Linked DNA regions of Homo sapiens: regions 1, 2 and 4 are each linked to region 3. The links come from fine-mapping of genetic effects on gene expression. A gene starts in region 3. Each other region holds a variant in brackets. All regions are shown on one strand. Distances are between the middles of the regions.

Region 1 (2,685 bases), 70 kb after region 3:
CCTGTGTTAGGCAGACTCAGGCCTTAGGCAGACTCAGGCCTACGTGAGGATAGGCAGAGCATGGGGTTACATTGCTCAGCCTAGTGATGGCTTCAGAAGCTTTTCGTTTTCATTGGATTTTGTGGATTTTGAGGATGTAGGGCAGCATTGCTAAACTATTTCATCCGCTGTCTGTTTTTGTAAATAAATTTTCTTTTTTTTTCTTTTTTTTTTTTTTTTTGAGATGAAGTCTTGCTCTTGTCACCCAGGCTGGAGTGCAAAGGTGCGATCTCAGCTCACTGCAATCTCCGCCTCCTGGGTTCAAGAGAATCTCCTGCCTCAGCCTCCCAAGGAGCTGGGATTACAAGCACCTGCCACCACACCCAGCTAATTTTGTATTTTTAGTATAGATGGGGTTTCACCATGTTGGCCAGGCTGGTCTTGAACTCCTGACCTCAGGCGGTCCACCTGCCTCAGCCTCCCAAAGTGTTGGGATTACAGGCGTGAGCCACTGTGCCAAGCCTGTACATACAATTTTATTGAAACACAGACACATACACATTTATTCTTGTTCTGTCACCCAGGCTGGAGTGCAGTGGCACGATCTCAGTTCACTGCAACCTCTGCCTCCCAGATTCAAGCGATTCTCCTGCCTTAGCCTCCCAAGTAGGTAGGACTACAGGCATGTGCCACCACACCTGGCTCACTTTTTAAAAATTTCTTGTATTTTTAGTGCAGATGGGGTTTCACCATGTTGGCCAGGCTGGTCTCAAACACCTGACCTCAGAAAATCTACCTGCCTCGGCCTCCCAAAGTGCTGGGAGTACAGGCATGAGCCACCATGGCCAGCCTGTCACACTACTTTTTAATGACAGAGTTATTGTGATAGAAATCATACGTACCGTGGGCTGGGCACAGTGGCTCACACCTGTAATCCTAGCACTCGGGGAGGCCGAGGTGGGTGGATCACCTGAAGTCAGGAGCTTGAGACCAGCCTGGCCAACATGATGAAACCCCATCTCTACTAAAAGTACAAAAATTAGCCAGGCATGGTGGTAGGTGCCTATAATCCCACCTACTCGGGAGGCTGAGGCAGGA[G/A]AACGCTTGGACTCTGGGGGGCGGAGGTTGCAGTGAGCCAAGATCGCACCACTTCACTCCAGCCTGGGCAACACAGCGAGACTCTGTCTCAAAAAAAAAAAAAAAAGAAAAGAAAGAAATTGTATGGCCTGCCGAGCTTAAAGTACTGGTCCTTTTGCACAAAAAGTTGGCTGACTCCTGGTCTAGGGCAGTGGTTCTCAACAAGGAGGGTGATTTTGCTGCCTGTAGGACATTCAGCAATGCCTGGAGACATTTTTGGTTGTTACCGTTGGGGGATGGGTGCTCTGGCATCTAGTGGGTAGAGGCCAGGATGCTGCTAAGCACCCTGCAATGCACAGGACGACCTCACACAACAAAGAGTACTAGGCCCAAAATGTCCACATTGTCAAGATTGAGAAACCCTGCTCTAGGGCAGTTTCCTGATTTCACACATGATCTTGTAGAATATACAGGAAGTGCTTAAAGAAGAAAGTAAGGCCAAGCGCAGTGGCTCGTGCCTGTAATCTCAGCACTTTGGGAGGCTGAAGCGGGCAGATCATGAGGTCAGGAGTTCGAGACCAGCCTAAACAACATGGAGAAACCCCGTCTCTACTAAAAATACAAAAATTAGCTGGGCATGGTGGCACGCACCTGTAATCCCAGCTACTTGGGAGGCTGAGGCAGGACAATCGTTTGCACCCAGGAAGCAGAGGTTGCAGTGAGCCGAGATGACACCACTGCACTCCAGCCTGGGAGACAGAGCGAGACTTCATCTCAAAAAAAAAAAAAAAAAAAAGAAAGTAAAAGTCATTCAGTCTTCCCACCCAGAAATTGTTACTACTCAAGTTTTTAATGTATTTTCCTTTGCTTTGTTTGGGTCGGTTTGTTTGTTTGTTTGTTTGTTTTGAGACAGAGTCTTGCTCTGTTGCCCAAGCTGGAGTGCAGTGGTGCGATCTTGGCTCACTGCAACCTCCACCTCCCAGGTTTTCAAGCAATTCTGCCTCAGCCTCCTGAGTAGCTTCGTCTACAGGCGTGTACCATCACCCCTCGCTAATTTTTTTATTTTTAGTAGAGACAAGTTTTCGCCATGTTGGCCAGGCAGGTCTCGGACTCCTGACCTCAAGTGATCCACCCGCCTTGGCCTCCCAAAGTGCTGGGATTACAGGTGTGAGCCACCATGTCTGGCTGCATTTTTTTCTGTGTAAAAATAGTATTGTATTTCTACTCTGTTGGAATTAATGTGCACATATTAGTAACTTAAAGTTTTTCCTGATATTAAAAAGGAAAAATTTGTTCTATTTTCAATAGAAATATATGCCCATCAAAGAAAATACAGATGAACCCCCAAAATGAGGGTCATTACCATCATTAATGTTACCTATAAACCCTGGCATTATTCTTAAGGCTGATGTTATGTATTCCCTTTGTCCTGGTAATACTACACGCAGGTATCTGTCCTGAGAAGATAGACAAGTGCGTACTGATTTATGTTCCTAGCAAAGACGTGCCTGACAGTATTGGCTTATACTGGCAAAAACTGTAACACATCTAGTATCTTTCTCATTAGGGTTCCAGTTAAATTAGTTATGGTAAAGCCCTACTTTTGGCCAGATGCAGCAGCTTACGCCT
Region 2 (2,685 bases), 840 kb before region 3:
GTGAGGAACTTGCTTTTTTCACTTTATGTCTGGAAACCATTCCATGTCTTTCTTATACTTTTTTCTATTTATTTTTTATTTTTAACTTTTATTTTAGGTTCAAGAGTACATGTGCCTGTTTGTTATATAGGTAAATTGCATGTCATGGGGGTTTGGTGTACAGATTACTTGGCTACTCAGGTAATAAGCATAGAACCCACAGGTAGTTTTTCAATCCTCACCCTCCTCCTTCCACCCTCAAGTTGGCCCCAGTGTTTGTCGTTCCCTTCTTTGTGTCCATAGGCACTTGATGTTTAGCTCCCACTTATAAGTGAGAACATGCAGTATTTAGTTTTCTGTTCCAGTGATAGTTCACTTAGGATAATGTCTTCCAGCTCCATCCATGTTGATGCAAAGGACATGATCTCGTTCTTTTTCACGTCCATGTAGATTCCATATATGTACCACATTTTCTTTATCCAGTCTACCACTTATGGGCATTTAGGTTGATTCTGTGACTTTGCTATTGTGAGTAGTGCTTTGGTGAACATACACGTGCATGTGTCTTTATAGCAGAACAATTTATATTCCTTTGGGTATACACCCAATAATGGGATTGCTTTTCTCATCCTTTTTCTCTGTTGCTCCATGTTCCATACCAGGGTTATACCATGGGTTATTTGATCACTCCTTTACTGAGGTAAGTCTAAATTTCCTTTTTTCCTGGTAATGAACCATGTTTCTTTGCCCAGGTCCTTGGGTTCATTCAGAATTTATCAAGCACTTCCCAGGCCCAGGCATAGGACTAGGTGCTGAGAGGAGGCAGACAGCACTGGGATTGATCACGGGAGGGCAGGCAGCTCTGTTCACCACCCATACTTCAATAAAAGCCTTTAAACCATTACCAGGCCATTCGCTCAAACATGACCACCTCTACGAACTTGCCTACACCTCAGTGGAGGGTCCTTATCGCTTCATACCTGGCGTGATGGTTAATTTTAAGCGTCAGCTTGACTGAATGAAGGACTCTATAGAGAGCTGGTAAGGCATCACTTCCCAGTGTGTCTGTGAGGTTGCTTGGAGGGGAGACTGGCATGGGAGTGGGTGGACTGGGTGGGGAAGGTCTGCCCTCAGTGTAAGTGGGCACCATCTAATCAGCTGGGGGCCTGAATAAAA[C/T]GAAAAAGGGCAGAGGAAAGGTGATCGCCTCTCTTTCTCCTAGACCTGGGACACTCTTCTTCTCCTGTCCTTGGACATCAGAAATTCAGGCTGTCAGGCCTTGGGACTCAGAACTTATGCCAGCAGCCCCCAAGCTTCTTAGGTCATCAGCCTCAGACTGAGAATTACACCATCAGCTTCCTTGGCTCTGAGACTGAGCCACACTACAGCATCCCAGGGTCTCCAGCTTGCAGATAGTCTGCTGTGGCACTTCTCAGCCTCCAAACTGCGTGAGCCAGTTCCACTAAGAAATCCCCTCTATATATGAGTATGTGTGTGCGTGTGTGTTTGTATGTGTGTGGAGAGAGAGAGAGAGAGAGAGAGAGAGAGAGAGGGAGAGAAAGAGCTCCTACTGGATTTGTCTCTCGGGAGAACCCTGGCTAATAGACCTGGGATAATTTCCCAGTTATTCTCCCTACTCAGGTGTCTCCAGTTTGTGCAGCTAGCTTGCTCTTCCTAACCCACTGAGCATGGGTCTTTTTAAATGTGCAGCCAGGTTGAAAACCACCGCAACTTTGTCTTTCACCTCCAGCCCTTCCTCTCCTTTCCACGCTGCTTGGACCTGAGGCAGCTCTGGGACCTTCCTGCTGACTTGCACTCTGTTCTGGCCTGAGCCATTGTTTCCTGCCATGATGACTATGGTGGGTGAGGTGGCTTGGTGTTTGTCCAGGGTCACCTTTCCCCAGTTATCGTCCTTACAGAGGGTCACAGCCAATCCGTAGTCCGTGTCCTGTGTCTCCTCTGAGAGGGCGTCTGGAGCCACCAACCTCATCCTGCCCACCTGGGAGCCACTGTATGCCCCATTAACTGGGCTGCTCCTTCCCACTTGGATTCAGGTTAGGCATGGAAGGAGCTGGTATTCTGTCCTGTCTTCAGAAACAATTAAGATGAAAAAGGATCTCGAGCAGCCGCATAGAAAGGTCTGCTTCAGCACGGGGTGTTCATGCGTCCACGAGAGCCATGGTGCCAGCGGTAGCATCCCAGGAGGGAGCTGTATGATTTCCAGAACGAAGGAATCTATAATCGATACTAGGAGACAGCATAGGCGATTGTAATTGATTAAGTGAAGTGCTTAAATAGAACGATCACAGTCTAATTATCTTTCACTGCTGACTCGAGGGATACTCTAATGTTAGAAAAGAAAACAATCTGGCTTCTCCCTAGTCCTTCTGAGGAACCGAGTGGAAAGCAGTAGCGATTGCAAGGGAGGAATCAGGCCAAGAAGAGGGGCAGTAAAACAGGCTCTGGTCCCTGGCCTGCAAGCTGGTGTTTTTTTCTACCCAGGGTCCTTTTTCCTTTTATTGGTACCACACTTCACTTTCCCTTTGAGGAACCCCCCACCCATTCTGGGACTTGGCTGACTCTCAAAGTGTCCCCTTACCACCTGCCTCCCTGTTCCCCCAGAGGCCTGGCACAGAACCTCATCTGGCCCAGTCAGGCCATTTTACTGGCAGCAACCTGGCTCAACTAGTCTTTCATTCCAGCTAATAA
Region 3 (2,685 bases):
CTTTTCATCTCAAGAAATAGAAGTAAAGCAAAATTCAAAAAGATGTGTGTAGGGGAGAAGGGGCTAATCTCAGTGAACGGGAGGAAACAGAGCAAAGCGCAGCTTTACTACCACCCCAAGCACAAGCCCGAGTACTCTGATCCTTCAGTAATAGTCACAGGCCATACTGGTCATCTGCCACCAGACTGGAGGAGATTGCTGGCCACAACACTCCCCTCTTCCCATGGCTTTAAGTCACATCTGTTTCCCAATGGGAAAGTCGACTGAGGGGACAGGGAAGGACAGACGGCAAAGCCATCAGAAGTCAGGTGAACTGAGATCAAAGTCGTGGCGAATGTCATCTGGACAAAGACGCTGCTCTCAGGATGTTTGCAATCTCAAGTAGGAGATACCCAACATCAATAAAGAGTAGCATTTTATTCATGTGCAGACCTCCCTTCTGGGCTAACACGCTGAGAAGAAAAAGAGTAACAACTTTATTTTGGGGCTGCTTATCTTTTGATGACGGGCCCACACAACCAGAGTTCGGCTTTTTCAACCAGAGAAAGCTTACTGAAGTGGGGATGAGGGGCCGCGAAGAGGATCGGACCGCAGGACTGGAAGCTGCAGTTTAAAAAACCGGGAAAAGGCCGGAGGCAGTGGCTCATGCCTGTACTCCCTGCACTTTGGAAGGCCGAGGCGGGCGGATCAAGAGATCAAGACCATCCTGGCTAACATGGTGAAACCCCGTCACTACTAAAACTACAAAAATTAGCTGGGCGTGGTGGCGCGCGCCTGTAAGTCCCAGCTGCGCGGGAGGCTGAGGCAGGAGAATCGCTTGATGCCGGGAGGCGGAGGTTGCAGTGAACAGAGATCGCTCCACTGCACTCCAGCCTGGCGACAGAGCGAGACTCCTCAAAAACAAAACAAAAAAACCGGGAAAAGGTTTTATTTCTCAATGACAGCCGCGAGGTGAAACTGCGATGGACTGGAAGTCAAAAACCGTGGGTTCCAGTTTGGGCTCTATCTTAACTATCTTGATCATTTTGGACAAGTCAAACCCTGTCTCTGAATCTGAGGTTCCATATCTGTGAAACAGACGAGTTGGGTCGCTTGACCTCCTTCCCTCCTGCTCTGAGCGTAACGATTGCTCGGAAGGTGCGCTCGGGCTGAGGAGGGCACGGCCCCGCAGGGCGGGGCGAGGAGAGAGCAGGAACCCGCACTCAAGACAAGGCCCCAGGGCAGTGCCCTACCCAGAAAAAGGGACTAGGATGGGGAGCAAGGGCCGAGGCTTCGCCCTTACCTGCCGCCTGCCGACTCCCCAGTCAGCCAAACCGAGCCCCGTAGCCTCTGCCGCCGCTCACTGCCACCCCCTCCGACTCGGCGCCCCGGCCGGGCCCGGCTCAATCCAAACCACCATGGCCCGCCGCCCGCAGCGCCAGGCAGCGGACCCGGACCCGCCGCCAGCCCATCCTCAACCACACGCGCAGGCGCCAGCGTGGACCTCTGAAGTTCCGCCCCCGGATTTGTCCCGGGGTAACCTGGGAAATGGAGTTTACTCGCAAGGATAAAGAGTACCAATTGACACGTGTCTTACTGCGGAACTGTGCCTGGGTTTGGCCAATGAGAAATCGACTTCGTTTTCATCCTGGTTTTGGGACAGCGGCAATCATGGCGCCACCTGTGAGATACTGCATCCCCGGTAAGTGAGCGCTTCCCGTACAGAGTCCTGGATAGGGGCTGAAGCAAGAAGGCTAAACGGCCTACAGCTTCTGGGGGCCCGTGACCGATGCAGCATTTTTTCTGCAGGCGAACGTCTGTGTAACTTGGAGGAGGGCAGCCCGGGCAGCGGCACCTACACCCGCCACGGCTACATCTTTTCGTCGCTTGCCGGCTGTCTGATGAAGAGCAGCGAGAATGGCGCGGTAAAGGAAGCGGCATGCCATCTCCCCTCTGTTTTTCCCTTAGGCTGCCCTTGAGTTCCAGTCCTTAGGCATGGGCACTGCGGACGCGTCTTTAGTGCCTCAGTGGTACAATGTTGGTCTCTTAGTTTCTTCTAGCCGTATCGCCGCTGTGGTGCACTTAGCCACCACACACTAGTTGTGTTGATCTCGCTTGGTTGTGCTGCTGACCCTCGGGGAGGGAAGTTGGGACAAAAGCAGATGCGAACTCAGTATCCCATCCCAGCCCAGCTCAGCCCAGCAGTGAGTTGCATACTGTATGAATGTTGCTTACCTTTCCGACTTTATCTAGCGCCACTATCTCCACCTCACTGACGCAATCTAGTCATACTGTCTTTTCTGTGTTTAAAAGTTATAATCACAGTCTCTGCTTGCCCTTTAAAAATTTTTTATAACATACTAGCTTCTTTCAGTGTCGGTAATGCGCCAAGCTTTCTCCTGCTACAGAGCCTTTGTAACATGCCATCTATCTGGAACGCTTCTATCTTCCTAGGCCTATTTAATTCCTACCTCCTTTAGATAGCTTCTCTACTATCACCTCAGAGAAGTCCTTCTGGACCCACTAATTGAGGAAAGGAGTTTTGTGGGGTGTTTTGTTTTTGTTTGTTTTGTTAAAGACTCACAAAAAACTCTGTTCCTTTTCTTCCAAGCACTATGTCAGCATATGATGAGACACTCAGGTATATGTTTCCTACTAGACTTCTCCCCTGCTTAAATCTAAGTCCGTGAAAGCAGGCCCTACCAC
Region 4 (2,685 bases), 120 kb before region 3:
GTCGCTCTTCCACTTAAGCCGCTCTTTCTTCAGGGGCTCATTGCGTCCTGGGCAGGACAGAAGGAGAGGCTCAGCATCTCTAAAGCCACTTGAGCTGCAACCTGCCCTCCCCCTCCCCTCCCCTCCCCAGGCCAGACCCTGAAACCCTGCTGCACTGGCTACTAAGTATTCAGGTCTTTGAAGCCCTTCCTAAATAGCAGGGAAGAGTCAGAAAACTTCACATAACCAACCTAGGGACATAAAATAATTGTGTCAGCAAAGCATACGCTACCATTGTTTTTGTTTTTTGTTTTTTGTTTTTGAGATGGAGTTTCACTCTTGTTGCCCAGGCTGGAGTGCAATGGCATGACCTCGGCTCACTGCAACCTCCGCCTCCCGGGTTCAAGCGACTCTCCTGCCTCAGCCTCCCGAGTAGCTGGGATTACAGGCGCCCACCACCACGCCTGATTAATTTTTGTATTTTTAGTAGAGATGGGGTTTCACCATGTTAGTCAGGCTGGTCTCAAACTCCTGACCTCGTGATCCACCCGCCTCAGCCTCCCGAAGTACTGGGATTACAGGCGTGAGCCACCGCACCCTTCCCACATGATGTGGGGCAGGGCGCGGTGGCTCACGCCTGTAATCCCAGCACTTTGGGAGGCAGTAGGATTGCTTGAGCCCGGCAGTTCTAGACCACCCAGGGCAACATGGTAAAACCCTGTTTCTACAAAAAAATTTTAAAAATTAGCCAGGCATGATGGCACGCTCCTCTAGTTCCAGCTACTTGGGAGGCTGAGATGGGAGAATCACTTGAGCCTGGGAGGTTGAGGCTGCAGTGAGCTGTGGTCATGCCACTGCACTCCATCCTGGGCAACACAGCGAAACCATGTCTCAAAAAAAAAATTATTAACAATTTTAACATCTTGTTACTAATGTCCCACTTAAAAAAAGGATTTTTTAAGCAATCATGACCAACAAACTCCCCCAAAAATTCCTGCAGCATCTGACAAAGAAAACAATTCTGTCAAATGTCATTTTTCTTGTTACCCAGCTCCAAGTGACCTCCAAGACAACTCCAAACCACAGCCAAGACTGAGGGCAGAGGTATCTCTCAAAGGCTTTTGGAGGCTCAGTCATCTCAAAACTAAAGGCAGAGTGAGCCACAGGAGTGAGATGT[G/C]AAGCACTCTGCTTCCACTATAACTCAGGTCCTACAGTGAGTGGAAGAACTGAGGCTGGGGGCCACCACCAGGCTGCTCCCACTGGCTGGGGCAAAAGGAAGCAAGGAAGAGAATTGCAGGCAGCGATCTCCGCTGAGAAAGAACCCCAGGCAAGCCTTTATTTATATACATGATCCCATTTCATTCTTGCAGTAGCCTTAGGCAGTAGGTATTATTATTGCTATTTCACAGGTGATATGACAGATTTAGAGAGATTAAATGACTTGCCCCAGGTCACATAGTAAGTGAGTGAGGGTTCCACCTCAGGTCTGACTAAATCCTGTAGTTCACCATCTGAATTCACAGTTACCTGTAGGGGCAGAAAACTCTAAAGCCAAATATTTAATTTAAAGTGTTCCTGGGGTGGTGAGGTGGCAGAAGGAAAGGCAAACCCTCTTTGGAGGAAAACAACTTCAAACCAGGCCTCAAAGAATTCCCAAGATAAAGTTCCAAGAAAAATAAATAAGGTAATAGTTTTAAAAAAAAAAAAAAAAATCTCAATATGCAAGGAAACAAGGCAGTACGAGCTTTACTGGCAAAAACAGCAGACAAAAGAATCAGATTTGCAAAGACTTTGGATAGATTATGAAATACTGAGTTAAGGGATGAGGGCCTTAAAAATATGAATAAGAGATTATAAAGAATGACCAAGGAGATTTTTTAAAAATGTTTAATTTTTGTGGGTACATAGTAGGTATAACCAAGAAGATCTTAAAAGAACCATATAGAACTTCTAAAAATTAAAAATACAGGCCAGGCCTAGTGGCTCACACCTGTAGTCCCAGCACTTTGGGAGGTCAAGGCAGATGGATCACTTGAGCCCAGGAATTCGAGATCAGCCTGGGCAATATGGCAAAAACCTGTCTCTACAAAAAATACAAAAAATTAGTCGGGCATGGTGGCATGCAGCTGTAGTCCCAGTTATTTAGGAGGCTGAGGTGGGAGGATCACCTGAGCCCAGAAAGGTTGAGGCTGCAGTGAGCCATGATCATGCCACTGCACTCCAAATCCAGCCTGGGTGACAAAGTGAGACCCTGTCTCAAAAAAATAAAAAGAAAATAAAAATAAAGAAAAATACAATATAATTGAGATTCGGATGTCTTTTTTCTGTTTGAGAGACAAGGTCACTCTGTCGCCCAGTCTGGAGTGCGGTGGTGTGATCATAGCTCACTGCAGCCTCAAACTCCTGGGCTCAAGGTATTCTCCCCCAGCAGCCTCCCAAGCAGCTGGGACTATATAGGTGACACTATGCCCTGCTAGGTCTAAAATTTTGAACTGAATTTCCAGAAGTATACAATAGGGAAAATGGGAAGGAAGCAACATTCAAAGAAATCATGGAGATGTCCACTCCCCCTAAACTGATCTATAAATGTAATACAATTCCAATATAATTCCTGTCAGTTTTTTCCCAAGGAACCTGGCAAACTGATTCTAAATTTTATATAGAAGAACAAAGATGTTCCTAGAAAAGAATCAGGTGGGAGAAGTT

Which allele goes with the higher level. Positions count from the first base shown, and alleles are read on the strand shown. Sizes are in standard deviations (SD) of each study's normalised expression. Not every link is listed here.
With allele T in place of C in region 2, the expression in monocytes after R848 of the gene that starts at base 1,461 in region 3 is lower (large effect, 0.84 SD a copy in Quach 2016).

The links.
Region 1: its variant is fine-mapped to the expression of ZDHHC16 in whole blood (TOPMed, PIP above 0.99).
Region 2: its variant is fine-mapped to the expression of ZDHHC16 in monocytes after R848 (Quach 2016, PIP 0.95).
Region 4: its variant is fine-mapped to the expression of ZDHHC16 in whole blood (INTERVAL, PIP above 0.99).

Annotation. Positions count from the first base shown.
Region 1 is chr10:97,375,380-97,378,064 of GRCh38, reverse strand. All of the region lies in intron 15 of RRP12 (ribosomal RNA processing 12 homolog), which reads left to right. Among named protein-coding and RNA genes, the nearest start is that of RRP12, 25 kb to the left of the region's middle. The variant G/A (reference allele first, on the strand shown) is at 1,078.
Region 2 is chr10:98,285,954-98,288,638 of GRCh38, reverse strand. No RefSeq gene overlaps it. Among named protein-coding and RNA genes, the nearest start is that of LOXL4, 19 kb to the right of the region's middle. The variant C/T (reference allele first, on the strand shown) is at 1,156.
Region 3 is chr10:97,444,951-97,447,635 of GRCh38, reverse strand. ZDHHC16 (zDHHC palmitoyltransferase 16) reads right to left here and starts at 1,461. Exons shown (of 12, transcript NM_198046.3): 1 at 1,283-1,461. EXOSC1 (exosome component 1) reads left to right here and starts at 1,630. Exons shown (of 8, transcript NM_016046.5): 1 at 1,630-1,681; 2 at 1,789-1,904. The coding sequence starts at 1,651. RefSeq lists a silencer at 1,200-1,409 and enhancers at 1,341-1,920, 1,921-2,501.
Region 4 is chr10:97,565,276-97,567,960 of GRCh38, reverse strand. It overlaps UBTD1 (ubiquitin domain containing 1), which reads right to left. Exons shown (of 3, transcript NM_024954.5): 2 at 1-47. Among named protein-coding and RNA genes, the nearest start is that of ANKRD2, 6.2 kb to the left of the region's middle. RefSeq lists a silencer at 1,101-1,190. The variant G/C (reference allele first, on the strand shown) is at 1,157.